Regions from separate parts of the Homo sapiens genome. Here regions 1 and 2 are each linked to region 3. Evidence: fine-mapped expression QTL. A gene starts in region 3. Each other region holds a variant in brackets. All regions are shown on one strand. Distances are from middle to middle.

Region 1 (4,244 bases), 33 kb before region 3:
CCAAATATGTGGAGATAAATCCACTAGAAGTTGAAGAACTCAGCAGTGATGAAGATAGTTATACTTCTAATTCACAGCCTATAACTTATACAACCTATGGTTGTAATTTTCTTCTCAGCCTATAACACTGAGAAGATGGTGAGAGTAATACCAGACAGTAGATTTAATAAAGGCCAAAGTATAATATAAAGAGAGTTTATTGGGCCAAATCCACAAACTGGTCAGTCAAGAAAAGTATAAATGATACAAGAGGACTGTACCTACACAGTTAAAAAAGAAGAAAAAAAACTTACTAAGAAATAACAAAGGAGGATGGATCTTGAGGCTGTTGCAAATATTACTGAAGAAAATTATGTATAAAGAAGATTATGGGCTAGCCAGGTGTGGTGGCTCATGCCTGCAATCCTGACACTTTGGGAGGCCGAGGCGGGTGGATCACTTGAGGTCAGGAGTTTGAGACCAGCCTGTCCAACATGGTGAAACCCCATTTCTACAAAAATACAAAAATTAGCCAGGTGTGGTGGCGGGAGCCTGTAATCCCAGCTACTCGGGAGGCTGAGGTAAAAGAATTGCTTGAACCCAGGAGGCGGAGGTTGCAGTAAGCTGAGATTGTGCCACTGCACTCCAGCCTGGGTGACACAGTGGCTCATGCCTATAATCTTGGCACTTCCGGAGGTGGAGGTGGGATGATTGCTTGGGCCTAGGAGTTCAAGACCAGCCTGGGCAACACAGGGAGATTTGTCTCTACAAAAAAATTAAAAATTAGCCTGGCGTAGTAGTGGATGTCTATAGTCCCAGCTACTTGGGAGGCTGAGGTGAGAGGATTGCTTGAGCCCAGGAGGCTGAGGCTGCAATGAGCCATAATCATGACACTGCACTTCAGCCTGGGTGACAGACGGGAGAAGGGAGACCCTGTCTCAAAAAAAAAAAAAAAAAAAAAAAGATTATGTCATTCTTTGGTCTTGTGGATGATCCAAATTATTTTTCATGCACTGTGGAAACATATTTCACATTTTCATTTTAAAGATGGTTTTGGAAAAATAAACATGACCATAAGAGACTATCTTCTTAACAAGAAGGGGAGAAAATTGGCCTAAACAACAAATTAGGAACTAAGGAGTTAAAAGGGGAATTAGGGGGACTAAGAGACTACTGTGAACATTTCCAATATTTTAAGAGCCTATATTGATTTCATGTTACAGTCAAAGGTTAACTGCTTAATGTAGGCTGAACATAACATTTCCTAAAGTTTTAAACCCAGACATTAAACTAGAAACTATTATTATATATACTGTATTCTGGAATTTTTTAAAAACATTGTTTTTAGTGTGTATACTTTGAATAGTAAATGTGTCATGATCTTCAATAATTTAGAAAATATAAATGGAATCATATATAAACTTTTGAGACTGCCTTTTTTTCATTGAGCCTAATGCCTTGCAGATTCATGCAAGCTGCTGTGTATTATCAACACTAGTTCCTCTTTAAAAAAAATACATTTTGAAACATAAACTACAGACCTGCCATGGTTTGAATATATCCTCCCAAAAGCATCTGTTGGAAACTTAATCCCCAATGCAACATCACTGGGAGGTGGGGGACTAATTAGAGGTAATTAGGCCATTAGGTAATTAAGCCACCCTCAACAATGGATTAATGTCATTATCAAGAGAGTTTGTAACAAAATAGGGAGTTTGGTCCCCTTCTCTCTCACTCCCTCTTACCCTCTCTGCCCTCTGCCATGGGAAGATGCAGCAAGAAGGCCCTCAGCAGATGCTGGCACCTTGGTCTTGGACTTTCCAGCCTCCAGAACCACGAGTCAATAAATTTCAATTCATTATAAATTACCCAGTCTGTGGTATTGTTATAGCAGCATGAAACATACTAAGACAACACCATATAATTCACTCAAAGTGTTCAGTGTTTCTTAATATAGTCACACTGTTGTGTAGCTGTCACCACAATCTAATTTTACATTTTTGTCTCCCCACTAAAAGAAACCCTCTACCCATCAGCAGGCTAATCCCCATCTCACTCTCCCCAACCCTATCCAGACTAAACGACCATTAATCTAACTTCTGCCTCTATAAATTTACCTATTCTGGACATTTCCTACGAATGGAATCATACAGTATGTGTTTGGG[G/T]TTTTTTGCAACTAGATTCCTTAACTTGCATTTTCAAGCTTCACACATGTTATAGCAGGAATCAGTACTTTGTTTTTATTGCCAAATAATATTCCATTATATGGCTATATCACATTTTATCTATTCATTTGTCAGCTGGAGGACATTTGGGCTGTTACTTCTTTATTAGCTATTATTTATAATGCTGCTATAAACATTCCTGTACAAGTTTTTGTGTGGAAATACACTTAATTACTGGGACATATGGTAATTCTATGTTTAACTTTTTAAGAAACTGTCAAATTGTTTTCCAAAGTAGTTGTACTATTTTACATTGTCACTAGTAGCAGATGAGAGTTTCAATACTTCACATCCTTTCCAACACTTGATATCTGTCTTTTTGTTTATAGCCATCCCAGTGAGTGTGAAAAAACTGTACCTCATTTTGGTTTTGATGTGTATTTCTTTAATAACTAATGATGTTGAGCATCTTTTCATGTACATATTGGTGCTTTTTCCTCTCCTCACCTTAATTGGAAAGCTGTTACTTCCTTTTGTTCCCACAGTTTTGAGGTTCTGCCCTGACTTACTTATCACATTGTAAATATTATTGTTCTCTGAACTATGCATCCTTTGGTTAAAAACCTTACTTAGCATTTACATAATACATTCCCAAAGAGTCTGTCATTTTCCATTATTTCTATCCCTTTCATCATGTGATCTCTGTTCTAGGTCACTTGTTATTTGGCTAAAACCCCTTCTTGAATTTTCTCAGAGGAGTTAAGTGGGTATTATATCCTTGAAATTTTTGTATAGTTGTAACATGTTTCCCCTCATAGGGGAGAAATATCTTCAAGGGAAATAGGGATTTGGGATTGTGAAATCCCCAATCTGTAAATACTCTTCTACCATCTCCTAGTTTCCAGTGTTGTGAATTAGAATTCTGATTCCAGTCTGTTACTTGATAGGTGCAACCTGTTCTATCTGGAAGCCTCCAAGGTGAATCCTTGGAGCTCAAAAATTTTACAAGGATATCCCTATGTATGTGTTTTTCATCACTGATCTCCCCCAGAACTTCATTCTGCACACTGAAGTCTTTAGCTCAGGAAATAATTTTATGTTGTTTAATTATTCCTTCTCCATTTGTTCCTTTTTCTTCTTCTGGAACTTGTATTAGCCATGTTAGGTGTCCTGAATCGATCCAATAGGTCTCTTTTTTAAAAGTTTTTTTTTTTTGTATTTTTTTTTTGGCTCCATGCTTTGAAATATTTATTTTACTTGATCTTCCAGGTCAATAATTGTTCATACTCATTCATTCCTTTATTCAATAATTATGTTTCGGGCGCCTACTATGTGTAAGACAGTGTTCTAGGTATTAGAGTTGACAACAGATTAGCAGTGAATACAAGACAAAAAAGTTCCTGTTCTCCTGGTGCTTACACTCTAGCAGAGATAGTTTTAAAAAAAATAAGTGTGTGAGGATAAATGGAGTCAGGTGATAATAATTATTTAGGTGGAAAAATCACATTTTTTGTTCCATAAAGTCTTAAATGTGGCCCATTATTATTTTCATGTTCAAGTTTCTCTCTCCTCCAGCATTTTTTTTTTTTTTTTAAAGATGGAGTCTCGCTCTGTCACCCAGGCTAAAGGGAGTGGCGCGATCTCGGCTCACTGCAACCTCTGCCTCCTGGGTTCAAGTGATTCTCCTGCTTCAACCTCCTGAGTAACTGGGACTACAGGCGCCCACCACCGCGCCCGGCTAATTTTTTGTATCTTTTTTTAGTAGAGATGGGGTTTCCCCATGTTAGCCAGGATGGTCTCGATCTCCTGACCTCGTGATCCGCCCGCCTCGGCCTACCAAAGTGCTGGGATTACAGGCGTGAGCCACCGTGCCCAGCCTCCTCCAGCATTTCTATTTAGCTAACTCAATATATTGTTTATTCTAAGTGGTTTTTCTCTTTCAGGTTGCCTGGCTTCCCCAGATGGGTTGTTTATCTTTGTCACCTCATGGGGGATGAGATTTAGTTGTTGGAGGACCACAAGCGGTAGCAGTCTCAAGAAAATGGAAAGGCAAAGCAGTCTCTACCCCTGTGGGTAGGCAGTGCTGCAGCAGGCAAGCCA
Region 2 (4,244 bases), 120 kb before region 3:
GACAGCAACAGCTCACCCATTCCACACTGCTCAGCCTCAGCACCTTTGGAAAATTCTAGGCAGTTGACTTTAGCAGTCAAAGTGAGAAGTCAATCCCTTTTTTCTGCTCCTCCCTTCCCTACCTTCCTTTGCAGGCTGTGGAAGGAAGTAATGGCAGAAGCAGTAAGCAAAAAAAACAAAAACAAAAACAAACCCAAAAAACAAAACAAAACCCCTGGTAGTGTTTTTTGCGGGGTGAAGGGTGGGTGGTAGGGAGGTGTTGAGTGATGGGGGATCCTATTTTTAAGATAGCTTGTTTCTGCTACATCTACAGCCCTCTATTGTAAATCTACAACTGAGATCAGGTGACCCAAAAACATTTATGACTATGATAATATTTGGTATTTATAGACTTTCAAATCCGAATCTCAAGAAACCATCTCTCTCCTCCTGCAAGTACATTTCCTGCAATTAGACTATACTGTCACCAGGTGGAACGTGGTGGGGGCAGCATGTTAGACTAGCCTTGGAGCAAGGCTCATCTCTATTTAAAACCTAGATTGCTGCCTTTGGGCCGTTTCTACACCGGTTTTTACCTTAATGTGCAATGGGGATAACACTCTCCTCTCAGGGGCTGTTGGGAAGTGGGATAACCTATATAAAACATATACAACAATGCCTAGAGCAGTGATTGTGTCTCTCTCTGAAAAACTGAGTTTAGTGATTTTTCCAAGATAGAGAAGAATACAATATGGTTGACTGCTGCCTTGGAAAAGGGAAGTCCTGGAATTAGACTACCTGGGGGTCAGGGTGCAGGAGAGGGTGAAGTGTCAATGTTGGGGGTGGGGTCAGGAGGCACGGAACAGACTCACTGTGATGCTGATGGCCTGGTAACCAGAACAGGGTACCTGAAAAGTCCTATCATATGCAAAACAAATCCAATTATGTATGCAGTTGCTGGTGGAGGTGGTGGGGGGAGGGGAGATGTTCAGTACAACTGGGACCCCATAACAGGTGAAGTACAGAGGAGTTCCTGGCGAGCAGGCAAGCAGGAAATAAAATGCGCTAGCAGTTAGCAGGGCAACAATCATCAGAAGCAGAAAGTCCTTGGGAAGAGGACTTAAAAGAGCAAAGCAGGTCCCTAGCCTCAAGAGACAGGAGCAGTAGAAAGATTACTAAGACACTTCTTGGAGCCAGACACAAAGGCAGAACCGCTCTTGCAGTAACACAATTGAGCCTGAACCTAAACTGGCTTGAGTTACTTCCCCAACTTAGCTCTGTGTTCTTCAGGACATCAGTTCTAAGAGATGTTGATAGGTTCAAAAAAGAAGAGAAAAAGAAGAAAGTGGTTTCCTTGGCCACAGAAGTTTGGTAACTGCTGAAGTAAACAAATATTTCTTTACTGTAGCACTTCTCGGTCTTTAAAAACCTAACATTTGTTGTCAATTTTTAAAGAAAGATACATGCAGTGTTTCCTAAACTTATCTGAACGCTTAATCCTTTAAATGGGAGAACACAAATACTATTAAGAATTATTCTTATCTAAGAAGAGTGTCAGGACTAGTCCAGGTCCTGGAGAATAGGGTATGGCTGCAGCAGTAGGCTGGGAGGAGAGGACTGTGGAAGCTGGATTAGGCATGGTGCCTCATGATCAGGGCTGGATGAAAGCAACAGGCCTGAAAATCTGGCAGAGCTATAAGAAACATTTTAAAAAACCGAAATAAAAATGTACTCATTCTTTTTCCTGTGCCTTTTCTAAAAAGTAAAAATACCGCTCTTCATGAAATAGCATCTTATAAAACAGTATACAGTATTAAATAAGTCTAAATATTAATTTTTAAAGTCTGAAAACATCTAAATCAAAATGCTCATGAAAGGTTTTTTCTTTGGCATGATAGGATTTGTTGGTTATCTTTTTTGCCTATTTGTATTTCTCATTTATATAATAAATGTGTTGCTTTTAAATTAAAGTTACTTTTTAAAACCATTTTATTAAAGAAACCAATCATAGCAATTAGGAAATTAAGTAAAACTTTTTGTGGGCCGAGCGTGGTGGCTCACGCCTGTAATCCCAGCACTTTGGGAGGCCGAGGCGGGCGGATCACGAGGTCAGGAGATCAAGACCATCCTGGCTAACACGGTGAAACCCCGTCTCTACTGAAAATACAAAAAATTAGCTGGGCGTGGTGGTGGACGCCTGTAGTCCCAGCTACTTGGGAGGCTGAGGCAGGAGAATGGCGTGAACCCGGGAGGCGGAG[G/C]TTGCAGTGAGCTCAGATCGTGCCGCTGCACTGCAGCCTGGGCGACAGAGCGAGACTCTGTCTCAGGAAAAAAACAAAAAAAACGACTTTTCATGTAAATGTTTTAAAGTTTAGGATTTAATTCTGTAACTATGGCAATATTATTTTACCTGTTATTATTTTATTGTTATCATTTTCTCCTTAAGCTAACCCTTAATACATCTGAATGGACTCTCTTTTAGAAAGAGACGTATTTGTTTCTTAGGGTCGCTGTGACAAAGTACCACAAACTGAATAGCTTAAACCAACAGAAGTATATTATCTCACAGTTCCAGAGGCTAGAAGTCCAAACAGCCTCCGGAACAGGACCATGCGCCCTCTGAAGGTCTAGGGAATAATCCTTTGCCTCCTCTTCCTAGCTTCCTCGGCTTGTAGCTGCATCATTCCAATCTGTCTCCATTCATCACATGGCCTTCTTCCCTATGTGTCTGTGTGACCTCTTCATATAAGGATGCTATAGTCATCAGATTTAGGTCTCACTGTAATCCAGTATGACCTCATCTTAACCAATGTATCAGCCAAGACCTTCATTGCAAAGATCTGATGTGAGACTCTGGGTGGATACGAATTTGGGGGTGGGGAGGAAATTATTCAATTCACTGAAAGACTCTAGCAATGATTTAATCAATAAACCCTTAGAACTGTAAATCAGTACATTTTAGAGAGCCTATTATTTGAACCCATCAACATTTTAACTGTATAAAACTGTGGGAAGAGATCCTAATTTTATCACTGTCCTACAGAAATGTGTTGACAAGTGCCCAACGATGTTCACAGCAACATTTTTTTGTAATAGCGAAAAATGGGAACAAGCTGAATGTCTATCAATTTGGGACTAATTAAATTATCTCACATCTACATTCTGCAGCCTTGAAAAAGAATAAGGTAGATCTGCATGATAGACATGGAAGATATCCAAAATAGATTAAGTAAAAAAAGCAAGTCAATAGACAGTGTTTAGTACATTCCTATTTACATAATGAGCAAATTAAACAACTCTACATTTATGTACATGTTTTAAGGAATAGCTTTATTTATCTTTCAAACATTAAAAGATACCTATTGTTCTCCAACTCTTCTGAATTTCATTTCATCCTTGTATTATTCTGCTTGGGTTGCCATAACAAAATACTGGGTGCTTTAAACCAGTGGTCCTGAACATTTTTGGCACCAAGGACCAATTTTATGGAAGACAATTTTTCCACAAATGTGAGCTGGGCAGGGAGGGTGGTTTCAGGATGAAACTGTTTCATCTCAGATCATCAGGCATTAAGACATAAGGAATACACAACCTAGATCCCTCACATGCACAGTTCATAATAGGGTTTGAGCTCCTAAAGAATCTAATGCCCCCTCCTTGATCTCATGGGAGGCAGAGCTCAGGCAGTAATGCTCCCTGGCCTTGGCAGAGAGCTCTTGGGTGTCTTATAAGGGCAATGCTATCATGAGACATCCACCCTCATTACCTCATTTAACTCTAATTACTTCCCAAAGGCTCTATCTCTAAATACCATCCCATAGAGGATTAGGATCATCCCATATGATTTCTGGGAGGACACAAACAATCAGTCCATAACAATCTTCCTTTAAAAGACTCAGGTTATGGCCAGGTGTGGTGGCTCACACCTGTAATCCCAGCACTTTGGGAGGCCGAGGTGGGTGGATCACCTGAGGTCAGGAGTTCAAGACCAGCCTGGCTAACATGGTGAAACCTTGTCTCTACTAAAAATACAAAAAATTAGCCAGGCATGTGGCAATGCCTGTAATCCCAGCTACTCAGGAGGCTGAGGCAGGAGAATGGCTTGAACCTGGGAGGCGGAGGTTGCAGTGAGTCAAGATGGTGCCATTGCACTCCAGCCTGGGCAACAAGAGCAAAACTCCATCTCAGAAAGACGAAACAAAACAAACTCAGGTTATAAAACAATGCTTTATATCGAAACTGATTGAAGCCTTTTAAAATTAGCACAT
Region 3 (4,244 bases):
TCTGAGAACCAACCTATGTCTCCATAAAAGAAAAAATGATTAGTCAAGGATGAGTGAATTCTAGGACTGTAAACTTTACCAAATCTACCTTGTCTCCAGATACTAAAAACACAAACAGAATTAGGGAACTAAAATCATTCTGGTTTCCTGAACCCTTTAGGTTAAAAGGAACAATATTTCCTGACACCGGAAAATGGTGAGTAAGCCTTGCTTTCACAAGTCAGTGGGTGAGGCTATGGTTTTCAAACTTGGGTGGAATATTATTTTAAGAGTCTTTAAGGGAAATTTTTATCATTAAAAGATTACATTAGTTACAACACAGCATAAAACTAAATATATAAAGCAGTACAGGTCTCAAACTTTTAAATTTCAGAGTCCAAAAAATGTTATGATCTCCCCATTTTCTCTCTTCTCTCTCTTCCATCACCTCTTCCCAGTACCTCAAATAAAACCAAGCCAGCTGACACACACAAACTGGTTTAGGAAGCTAAAGGTCTGTAGCAGTCAACATGAGCCAGGAGTGGCTTGTGTGCTACCTGCTAACTCTAATCATCAGACTTTCCATCTAAAGCTCAGAGAGAATAAATTACATGGGAATCAGGCCCTAAAAGCCTTTTCAGAAGTCTTCCATTTGACAGAATAGCACATTAGGTCTACCCACCATCACCCTGAGTGGGCTTAGCTACTTGTGTCAAGGTCTCCATAAAAATACAGATTTCAAAAAAGAATTTTGCAATACACATTCGAAGTCTTGGAGGAAAGCTGCTAAGATACGACCAGTAACTACTCCATGAAACCAGTCTTAAAGCAGACTGAAATAGCCAATGATGGCTACAGAACACATATCCAACTCACTAAATTTTAAAATTTAGGATTCTGTGTGCTGAAAACGATTACATTCTTTGATATTCACTTTTAACCAAAATACCCATTTCATTTCTAAGAAGACAAAAATGAGGAAGTTAAAATATACATTTGCCTTCCTTCTTGTCATACACCTTCCCACATACCAAATTACTACTGCAAAGAGCCACTATGCTATTATTCCAAAGAGTTCCTAAGCATCTCACAAAGAGATGCCTTGGTTCCTGATGACTATTATAATCATAATTATATGATTATGATCTTCCAGATCCATAGATGGTCATCTTGGATAAAGAACCCAGTAATGAAAGTATGCTGCGGTCTGTGTTTCTACTTACCCTCGATGACATCCTGGGGGTGAGAAGTCCGGTCACTGGGTGGATCCAGTGCAACAGTTGCCAGCGAAGTGGTGGCCCCAGACATCTCACTCATAGGCTCACTCCGGCTTGTTTCAGGCACGCTTTCCCGGGAGCTAAATCTTACTCGGGAACTAGATCGAGAGCTGAGGTCCGGACTGGTGTCTGACAAACCTGGAATGTCATCGATCTTTGTCGGTGTCACCATGAACCGAACTGAAGCCATCTTGGTGGTGGTTTCTGGAGGATGCATTTTGTTCTTTTTAAGAACAAAAAAAGTGGGGGGAACCTCGCAAAATCTTCCTCTTACGCTAGCTACTTTTGACTGCAATACAAAAGATAACTTGAAAAATAACACATTTCAATAACCTTGATTCACACCACACAAAAAGCCCCAACTAAGAATACTTCTACTCAGAATTCAAGCCGACTGTCCTAGAAAGTGCATCACCAATAGGTGAATATATTTTTTAAGAGAGAAAAAAACAAAAAACAAAAAGACAAAACAATGCCAATCTTGTGTGACTTCTTTCCTTCAGAATGAAGAGCTACCTAGCTAACCCCTCTGGTCCGGGGCTGAAGGCTCAGTGCCATGGTCTCAGGGCAGCAGATGAAGCCTCCCTCCCCTCAGCCCCCAGTTTCCTGTCGAGGTAGTCCTTTATCTGGTGAGTGTCCCACGGTTCTAGTTGGGCGAAGTGCGTGCAGGCAAACCTTTATCAGGCGACTATAGCGTGGATCAGATTGCTAAAAGGTGTACACCCGGCCACCTGTTGTGTATCAGGTGAATACCCCACAGGTCTGGCTGGGGGGAGGTGTATGCAAAGCCACCCGGTGTTTTTGATGTCGACAATCCACTTGGGTCTGGTGGGAAAGGTGCACATGCATAACGGGAAAAATAACCCACACTACTGAGAGAAGGGTGAGCAGAGGAGGATGCAGGGGCAGAGCGGATTCCTGTCTCCGAGAGGTCGGTGGGGGTGGCGCGCCCGCTCTTCTCCTAGCAGAAAGGTCCTCGGGGTCTGGGAGGAGGTTAGCGGATCAAGACACCTCGGACTGCAGCTCAGAGTCGTGGCAAGTCGTAGCTAGTCCACTGAGCCACGGTCCGCTCGCTAGGTTTCTCCTGCGTGTGACAGGACGAGCCACCCCCTTTGCCGGAGGCGCGTTCTCCCCTACCCCCGCCCCGGCGCAGGTCACCCCCTCGTCGTTCTTCCTCAGGGTCCCAGTAGAGGAGGAGACGGCCACGCAGGCTGGCCTGACTGGGCAGCAGGGTGAGGGAGAAGGAGGTCGCAGGTGCAGTATCCCGGCGCCAGCTGATGCGGGTGCGCGCGCAGCTGTTGTTTACTAGCCGGTAACTGTTTCAGAGCCGCGGCGCGCGCAGGGTTCGCGCTGCCGGGGCTGGCGCCCCCTCCCCGGCCCGACGCCAGAGCAGCAGTTACGTGACCTGGCCTCCCCCAGCCCCGGGCCCGACGGGGTGCGCCCGCGCCGCCGCAGCCCTTCCCTTCCCTCCCCGCTTGTTCCTCATTCGAGGTGAACCTTGCGAAGAGAAGCCCGGGGGTGCAGTGAGAGGGCGGAACCGTCCCGCGGGCGCCCGAAAGCCCCGCCCAGCCGCCGCAGCCCGCGGTGACCGAGTGCAGCGCGCCTGCGCTCGCCGCGGGACACGGCAGGCGGGGCGGGGCCGAATACGAGTGGCCAGGGGCACGACGGGAGCTGTAGTCCAGGGCACGGCCCGACCCGCGTGAAGAGGGGAATAATCCTTTTCCTCGGTCCGGCTGTGCTGCACACTCACTCTGGAAGCATCCTAGAGGGCGGGCGCTGCTCCTCACCCTCAGAACCCGGGGAGCCATTTCTCTTTCATGAGTGTCTCTGAAAACATCATTCATGATTTCTTTAACCAGAAACACCGCTCCTATACCTGGGAATAACCCTCATTGTAATTTTTATGTAGAGGTCTACATACAAATAAACCACTTTTATGTAAAAAAAAAAAATTAAAACTATAAAGTAGGCCTGGCGCGGTGGTTCACGACTGTAATCCTAGCACTTTGGGAGGCTGAGGCGGGCGTGATCGATCACCTGAGCTCAGGAGTTCCAGACCAGCCTGGCCAGCATAGCGAAACCCCGTCTCTACCAAAAATTCAAAAATTAGCCGGGCGTGGTGGCGTGTGCCTGTAATCCCAGCTATTCCTTAGACTGAGGCAGGAGAATCGCTTGAGCTTGGGAGGCGGAGGTTGCAGTGAGCCGAGAACGCACCATTGCATTCCAGCCTGGGGGGACAAGAGCAAAACTCCGTCTCAAAGAAATAAATAAATAAAAATAAAACTATAAAGTACCTTAAACACATTTGTCCTACTTTAATTTTTTGTTGTTGTTCTTGTCCTTTTAATAAATGCTATGTCCACTTTCTAGTCAGACTGAAAGTTCCACTAAATAATACGTTTTTTTATACCTGGAGAAGACGTTGATGTATTTTCTCAAATCCATTCCATGTTTTCACCACTACATTTGTCGCTAGAATATTTTTTCTTAGTGTTTATTTAATGTATAAATGGTGGTGTTCGATAAATTCTGACTCACCAATGTTTTGTTTGAAAAGCTATTTCCTATAGCTGTGATCAAGACCTCTAAATTTAACAATCACCTGGGCCCAGAAACTGGCCCCCGGTTTTGCCTGGGGTCTTGGCTCCTCACAAGTGGTTATGTTTAAGCAGCACTCCTAGCAATGGGAACTGTATTCCCGGAAGTTCTCTTTTATCAAATGACACACAAAGTCCAAATCCTTTCAAGGATTAAAGGATCAAAAAGGTTAAAAAGATCCTGGTAACAAAATGAGAAATCCTAATGTAAAGTGTAAACCTCCTAAAGTTTGACTCTTTATAAAGTCTGGGTTTCTTGATTCAGGCCCACAGCTTTCATCCATCCTCAGCAGGATCAATTTTTTCCTCAGGCAGGCCTGCCGTTCATTCAAACTTCAGACTTTTCCTTTATAAAGAAACACAGAATTTTTATGAAACCCAATTTCCTACC

Alleles and levels. Alleles are on the strand shown, and positions count from the first base shown. SD is a standard deviation of normalised expression in the study named.
For the expression in fibroblasts of the gene that starts at base 2,574 in region 3, allele T in region 1 goes with a lower level than allele G (small effect, 0.26 SD a copy in GTEx).
With allele C in place of G in region 2, the expression in pancreas of the gene that starts at base 2,574 in region 3 is lower (small effect, 0.32 SD a copy in GTEx).

What was found. PIP is the estimated chance that this variant, and not a neighbour inherited with it, causes the effect.
Region 1: its variant is the best candidate, but not a certain one, in a credible set for the expression of SLC12A6 in fibroblasts (GTEx, PIP 0.55).
Region 2: its variant is the best candidate, but not a certain one, in a credible set for the expression of SLC12A6 in pancreas (GTEx, PIP 0.86).

What each region holds. Positions count from the first base shown.
Region 1 is chr15:34,302,039-34,306,282 of GRCh38, forward strand. The region is part of intron 2 of SLC12A6 (solute carrier family 12 member 6); the gene reads right to left. Among named protein-coding and RNA genes, the nearest start is that of SLC12A6, 34 kb to the right of the region's middle. The variant G/T (reference allele first, on the strand shown) is at 2,145.
Region 2 is chr15:34,213,394-34,217,637 of GRCh38, forward strand. No RefSeq gene overlaps it. Among named protein-coding and RNA genes, the nearest start is that of KATNBL1, 5.4 kb to the left of the region's middle. RefSeq lists an enhancer at 651-1,246. The variant G/C (reference allele first, on the strand shown) is at 2,238.
Region 3 is chr15:34,335,208-34,339,451 of GRCh38, forward strand. It overlaps SLC12A6 (solute carrier family 12 member 6), which reads right to left and starts at 2,574. Exons shown (of 26, transcript NM_001365088.1): 1 at 2,125-2,574; 2 at 1,203-1,545. The coding sequence starts at 1,473. RefSeq lists enhancers at 639-688, 749-818, 1,020-1,139 and a silencer at 2,429-2,988.